Homo sapiens: one gene and its partner. The protein of the gene in region 2 interacts with the protein of the main gene of each other region in a biochemical or structural test. Each region holds a gene or a part of one and is shown on either strand. Other genes may lie near its edges.

What was found.
Region 1: the proteins of DLG5 (region 2) and NRXN3 interact in a test that uses a peptide from one of them, tested with the Homo sapiens proteins (one large-scale study listed by IntAct).

What each region holds. Positions count from the first base shown.
Region 1 is NC_000014.9:79,863,873-79,867,372, forward strand, and holds part of NRXN3 (neurexin 3), read left to right. Parts: 3' UTR 1-3,500. UniProt on the Homo sapiens protein: Neuronal cell surface protein that may be involved in cell recognition and cell adhesion. May mediate intracellular signaling. Functions as part of a trans-synaptic complex by binding to cerebellins and postsynaptic GRID1.
Region 2 is NC_000010.11:77,790,756-77,794,255, forward strand, and holds the end of DLG5 (disks large homolog 5), read right to left. Parts: intron 3,363-3,500; coding exon 3,253-3,362; intron 1,789-3,252; coding exon 1,685-1,788; 3' UTR 36-1,684; downstream 1-35. UniProt on the Homo sapiens protein: Acts as a regulator of the Hippo signaling pathway.

The DNA of each region.
Region 1 (3,500 bases), on a different chromosome or scaffold from region 2:
TGAATATTTGACTTTGAAAAAATATCTTAACGACATGGGGCAAAAAGTGCAATCTAAATGGTAGCCTTTACTAATGTGTGTGGAAAGAGGTGTTCCTCATTATCTAATATTTCAATGTGTTAAGAGTTTAATTTTTTTGTTATCATTAAAAAAGACAGGATTATAAAGAGATATCAAAGCACGATTTTAGATAACCTAAACGGCCCAGCCTATACGAAGTTGATTATATCTCGATGTCTGTAAAAGATTGCTGTTCTTGGAGTCTTGAGGTCTTGTGAATTGATTTCCTGCTTTCTTTCATTTTTTTCAATTTAAGTAATAATACATTTGTTATATTCCTTTCAGTGTAAGTTTCTATTTGGACAATTTTATGGGAACATGTGCATTCTCTATGTGAGCTTCTATCATATTCCTGTTTTATTAGCAGAACCTAAAGGAATTTATTTAATGATGTTGTGACATTACTGCTTTTTCTTTTTTCTTTTCTTAGTTCATATTTGCATTTTCGTTCAAGGATATGCTTAGCAATAAAATGTTCTTCCCAAAACCTTGTATGCTGATGCACTTTTATTTTCTTAACATTTGAGAAAATCTCGCACTGAAGCTAATTATGTCATATCTTATTAAAAGCCGAGTAAGAGCTAGACCACTTTCATGTGATAGAAGATATTCTAAGCAGTTACTAATTATTACATTATCAAAATGCCATATTTATGAGATAATTATCTGTTACTTGAGGCATTATTTTTTAGATTGCTATGATAGAATAACCAGGAGGGAGTGCATTTTTCTGGAAAGATGATAGAAACATTGTATTCTAGAAAAGATTATTGGATACTATGGTTTTGTTTGTTTGTTTTTGTTTTTTGTTTTTCGTTTTTTGTTTGTTTTTTTTTTGAGACAGAGTCTCGCTCTGTCGCCCGGGCTGGAGTGCAGTGGCACGATCTCGGCTCACTGCAAGCTCCGCCTCCCGGGTTCACACCATTCTCCTGCCTCAGCCCCCCGAGTAGGTGGGACTACAGGTGCCCGCCACCACGCCCGGCTAATTTTTTGTATTTTTCGTAGAGACGGGGTTTCACCGTGTTAGCCGGGATGGTCTCGATCTCCTGACCTCGTAATCCACCCGCCTCGGCCTCCCAAAGTGCTGGGATTACAGGCGTGAGCCACCGCGCCCGGCTTGGATACTATGTTTTTTAAAGGCATTTCGTACCTTTTACGTATTTTCTATAAGTCAACAAGCTTTAAACAGTATTTAAAACTATGTTCACATAGTGCCATAAGCACTAGAAAGTCTTAGATGTCTTCTTTCCAAGCCTCCCACCATATTAAAATTTAAAATTAAAAAACAGAATCCAAAACCAAAATTTAAATGAGTTCTTCAATTTTAACAGCTTCTTACAAGAATTTCTGATTACAACTTGTTTCATACACCCATTGTAGCAGTAATGTCTCATATTTCTCGTTCTCTCAGCACACACTTACTTGGCCAATTGGATAATCCATCTACCCTTTGTTCTTCACTGTAATCTAGAAATATAGATTTAACTGAACAGCTGTCCTTTATCCATATGTTGGTTACCAGTTTTCAAAGAGTTAGAATTTTAAAAATATATATTTAGTTAAGCCTGTGCCTTCAAGATAACATTAGTGGAGTGGTTATACTATCGACTATGTTAGGAATGGGGGGGAGAAAGTCAGGTTCAGTGATGTCAAATTATGTAAAGTTTTTTTTTTGTTCCTGTCTTCAAAGTTCTGTATTAGATGTTCTCCCATCATTTTTTGAGATGGAGTCTTGCAGCCTACAGTGCAGTGGCATGATATTGGCTCACTGCAACCTCTGCCTCTCAACCTCAAACGATTCTCCTGCCTCAGCCTCCTGAGTAGCTGCGACTACAGGCATGGGCCACCACACCCAGCTCATTTTTTAATTTATTTTTTATTTTTTTAGTAAGGAAGGGTTTCACCATGTTGGCAAGGCTGGTCTCGAACTCCTTACTTCAAGTGATCCACCCACCTTGGCCTTGCAAAATGCTGGGATTATAGGTGTGAGCCACTCCTCCTGAAATCTTTCTAAATCTCACTAATATATAATTCTAGGACTACTTTAAGCATTCACTTTTTCTTTAATTCAAGAAACATTTATTGAACACTTATGTACAAGCTAGTCTACTATTGGCTATTGTTACTTTGTTTCAATGAAGGCAGAAAATGGCTAGAAGGATTTTAAGCCTTTTTGTCTCTTGTATAAATCTATACAGGTCCAGTCTCTCTTTGCTCATATTCAAATTGAAGTTTGATCTTTCTCCAAAAAATATCCAAGCCCTGTGTTTGTCCCAGTTGAACTAATATCTTGATTATATAGTTTAAGATCAGTTTGATAATGTCTATTGAATATTTACTAAATGATTATGGGATATTAAATTGAGAGCCTTGGGAGCTTATCATCTAGTAAAGATGAACAAAAAATGGTACTATAGTGAATGCAAATAAGCTATCAAAAAGTACAAACTAAGTTGGGAGCTTAGAAGAAATTATGTAAGGGAAGGCTTCATAGAAGGGGTGACATTTTGGTAAACCTTGGAAAACTGATAGGCAGAAATAAGGGCTGTATATCATTCTAAGCAAACCCTTAAAGTGGGAGCAAGCAGGATCAAAACCATAATTTGGATTGATGACAGACTGCAAAAAGTACATTGGAGGAAGATATGAGTAGGAAGGTTTTTGAAATCATGTCAATGAATGGGAAGAGAGAAATGGGAGAATAGCTTGAGAAGTTCAAGGTCAAGGGCTGCTTTGTCGAGTACAAAGGACTCGAGCATATTTGAAATGAAAGGTAATAACTGATCTACTCTTATGGAGCAACCGAGTTTCCTGATAGAGATGTTTATCTGGGGGAAAAAGGCATAAGTCAATCTTCTTGGAGAGAATGGGATCAGAAACTGACATATTGCTACAGAGGTTACAAAAGCTGTAGTCAGAGGGCTTCAGTGTTCTGGATATATTAAAGGACAAGGTCAGATACCCAAGTGGGACCGTGAGTGATTAATGGCAGCAGTCCACTGACAGCACCAGTAGGAAGGCGCTAATGAAAAGATCTCTAAATATCAGTAAGGGGTTAGCTGCCATTAATAATACAACTTTATAGCTTTACTATTTTTTCTTTTATTGTTGAAATAGTGAGGGCACGTATTTTTCTAATTGTGTTTATTACAAAGAAAACAGACCCGAAGAACTTAAATGACTTCTCCAAGGTCACACAGCTAATACATGACAATGTCATGACTTAAAATCCAGTCTTGTGGTTCCAAATTTAGAGCTCTTTCATAAACCTGTCTCTAGAGAAGCAAGTCATTTTCTACTTTTTCCAGAAGCATTTGAAGTGGAAGCTAAGGCAGGAAATGAGAGGATATTGTGTTAGTCTACTGGGATTACCCTGGCAAAATACCACAGGCTGGGTAGACAACTGAAATGTATTTCTCAGTTCCAGAAACAAAGTTGCA
Region 2 (3,500 bases):
GAAGAGATTAAAAACTCACATCTTCAAACACAGCCTTACAGAAATTGACCTTTATTTGTTGTACTAAAGCCTGTTTAACTTTTGATACAAAGTAACATTTTAGTACAGAAAATCCCAGTCTGTCAGCTCAGTACCTGTCTGTGCACACTGTACCATCTCAGTCCCACTCTGCCTGTAACTTAGAAAACAGCCCCTACCCCCAGAGGGTCTGCGAGTTAATACCTTGAGAATAGTCTACAGTTTTTCATAGTTTGTCTGAGCTAGAAAACTTGTACCTGTAAAACAAAGGACAGCATTGAGGACTGAAACTTGTCTCTTTTTTGAACAACTGTGCAAGAAAATATATCCCTTTTTAAAAAACATCAGTTATGGCTAAACTACAATCTAGTGTCTAGAATTACAAAGAATAAAATGAAATCAAAGATTTCTCGCTAGTAAAATGAAATGTTAGGAACAGTATTAAAATATAGGTCCTACCCCAACGACACTTACACAGAGCCCAGTACAGTACCTATTATTAACAGGACGCATAGCTTAAGGAGGAACCACATCAAATCTTCAGCCAGACATATCTAGCCTCAGAAGTGCAAAAAAAAAAAAAGCCCCCAAACGAAGACACCCACACTGAGTAGGGTGCATGCCGTGAGTGCTGTAATCAAGATTAAAAAGACCTCAGTTTTTCTTTTTAGACTGTTGATAGTGACAATAACCATTATGCTTCCCCTAAAAGCTCTCAATTCAATGTCTGAAACATGAATGTTTTCATATCAAAAAGAACTGATGTACCTGCCACCCTCTAAAAAGTTTAAGAATTACCCTGCAAACATTGCACTGATGAAGGCTGTCACGACTTACAGAGCCTAAGGAGGACCCAATGGCAGGCATCAGCACAGCTGAACACCACCTGGACCCCACTGCAGCCCTGCCCACGCAGCTCTCACGGAGCAGACACAGTCCTCAAGTAATAAGCACAGATGGAGGAGAAACGAGAGGCTGTGGAAGGCAGGAGAGAAAGGCCGAGAGACGAGTTTGTAAGAATGCCAAAGTCACCTTCCCCATTGTGGGAGGAAAATGCCAAAGGCACTGGTTCTGCTGCCACAGGCAGTCTGAGCACCTGGAGTTGTGACGTCCTTCCAGGAGAGGTGCCACCAAGGAGCAGGAGGTTTGTCAAAGCTCTGGTCCCACCAACAAGAACCTCCCAAAGCAAAGCAGCCCCCATTGAGGTTCCAAGGTCGTTTTGCTGAAGACGGGAACGAAACCAACACCAAAGCGACAGGGGGTTGACAGAGGGGACAGGGGCTGGGCACCGGCAACATGGAGCCGTTCAAGTAAACATAAACCACCAAATACTTAGAAAAGGCTTGTAAACGAGTGATCCGAAAGGTTCTCTTTGCAGCATCTCTGATCAGCTGGCTAAAGAAAGGTGGGTGCTGAACCCGTCTTTAGTGTTATCTGTTTTGTGTTAAAGCACACGTGTGACACGGGCAGAGTGTGTGGGCCTGGGCCTGGATCGCACGCAGCCGTGGCCCTCTGTCTACAAAGGAGGTGCTTCTGGGTCCTGGTTCCGGATCCTTCCCCCGCATGTTCATAGACGGACAGACTTCTACTTTCAGTCGCTAGAAAAGAGCTGAGTCTGGTGTCCCCTCAGGCGGCCAGCTGCAGTCATCCACAGCACAGCATTCTCCTAGAGCGGGCAGGCTGGAATCCACAGGACTTTATTTTGTTCTTGATTGACCATTGCCAAGATCTGAGTGCAAATGCTTGACAGGGCTCCTCCCTGGATGACCCCTGCAAAAGAGCCCCCCAGACACGTCATTCAGCTCAGAGTAAGACCCCAGGTTTGAGGCAAGGCAGTACAGCTTGCACTCTTTCTACTGTGTGGCTGTCTGCTTTGTGCTCCTTGGCACTCTGCTCCATCCCCACCTGACTCTCCTTCACCAGCAAGAAACTGGGAAAGAAAATTGCCCCTCTTGAGTTGATCACTCATATGTAAACTGCCCACCCCACTGCAGTTAACACCCTGGGTTGGGTTTGCAATGGTTGGGGGAATCCCAGGGCATCAGAAGGAAGTTTGGAGGACATGTGGCGGTGGTCTAATCATTAGCAGGATTCTGCAGGAAACGACAAGTTTAAGGAGCCAGATAGCTCATGGCCAAGAGGAGAGTCACAGAAAGATGATGGCGCCAACTTGGGCCAGCCCTGTACTATAGGAGTTTGACAAAGGGGTCTATAGACACCAGGCCAGGGGTACTCCAGTGTGCTCCACATAACAGCACCTGGACACAAACCAAGCCCCTACTGCAACAAGGCATGCTCAGAAATTGACAGTGAGTGTCTAGAAACTGCTATGGAAACAGGACGTCGTAATTTTATGTCTGTTGAATCTAACAAGAAAAAAATAGAGCTTACCTTTTGCAAGACTTAGAGTTTTAAATTTTCATCTCTCTAGGAATTGTCAGTGTATTTGGCTAAATACCAGTCTGTGAGGAATTGGAAATGAAAGTTCACACACACACCCACACACACACACACACAGAGGCATGCACACCTGCACATACCTACACACACATGGGCACCAAGCCCAGGTCCCTGGACTAGATCATAACACTCTCCACAATGCAGTTAGAATCCCTGTCCCATCCTCTGTGACTGCAAATGCTAATGCCCTGCAAATGACAGACTTTCCCAAAGAGGCTGAAGGCCAGAAGGTAAAATAGAACCAAACTTCACTGAGTTTGTTTCACTTTGAAGACCAGAGATGGTAAGGGGACAGCATTGTTTTTTTTTGTTTTGTTTTTTGTTTTTTTTTTTTTGGAGGGGGGTTTGCCAAATCCCGCTGCAAAACGGGACTGCCCTGGAGGGTGCTAGGGACAGATGGGCCCCTAGCCTCCGCTGCCCACACTGCTGGCACACTGGGGGCTGCTCCAGTCCCCGCCCTGCCTGGGGACACTGTGGCTGCACTAAACTGCACCTGTGCTATGAGACAGACCCACCACTGCACGTGTGAAAATGAGCAGGCAAGCCAGGCAGGACCTGAGGCCAAGATCGGTGAGCTTAACATTCAACCTGTAAGAATCCTGACGTTGGCCAGGGACTGCAATCTGAACACCTGACTTGTCAGGAACGTGCTCATGACAGCACTTGGGAGCATGTAGAAAGTGCGGGCTTCTCCACGGCTAAGAAAACAGCCTTAGGAAGCCTCTGCTTCCTTCCCTGCTGCCTGCTCCCCACTCCAGGCCCACGCACACCTACCTGTGAAGTACCTGCTGTACTCCTGCTCAAGCTTCTGCGCCGCCTCAAACTGCTCTTTGGAATGCCTCTGAGTCACCTTGTCCCTCAGGTAGATGGGGTCTCTCTGCTCCCTGTGGGGACAGCCAGACACCAGGCTGAGCACTGAGCCTCCTCCAGGCCCTCTTTCCTTCCTCTGTCCAGGCTAACAGGGGCCCCATCAAGGCAGGGGTAGGCTGTGGAGGGAGGCCCCATGTGCTCCCCACATAAAG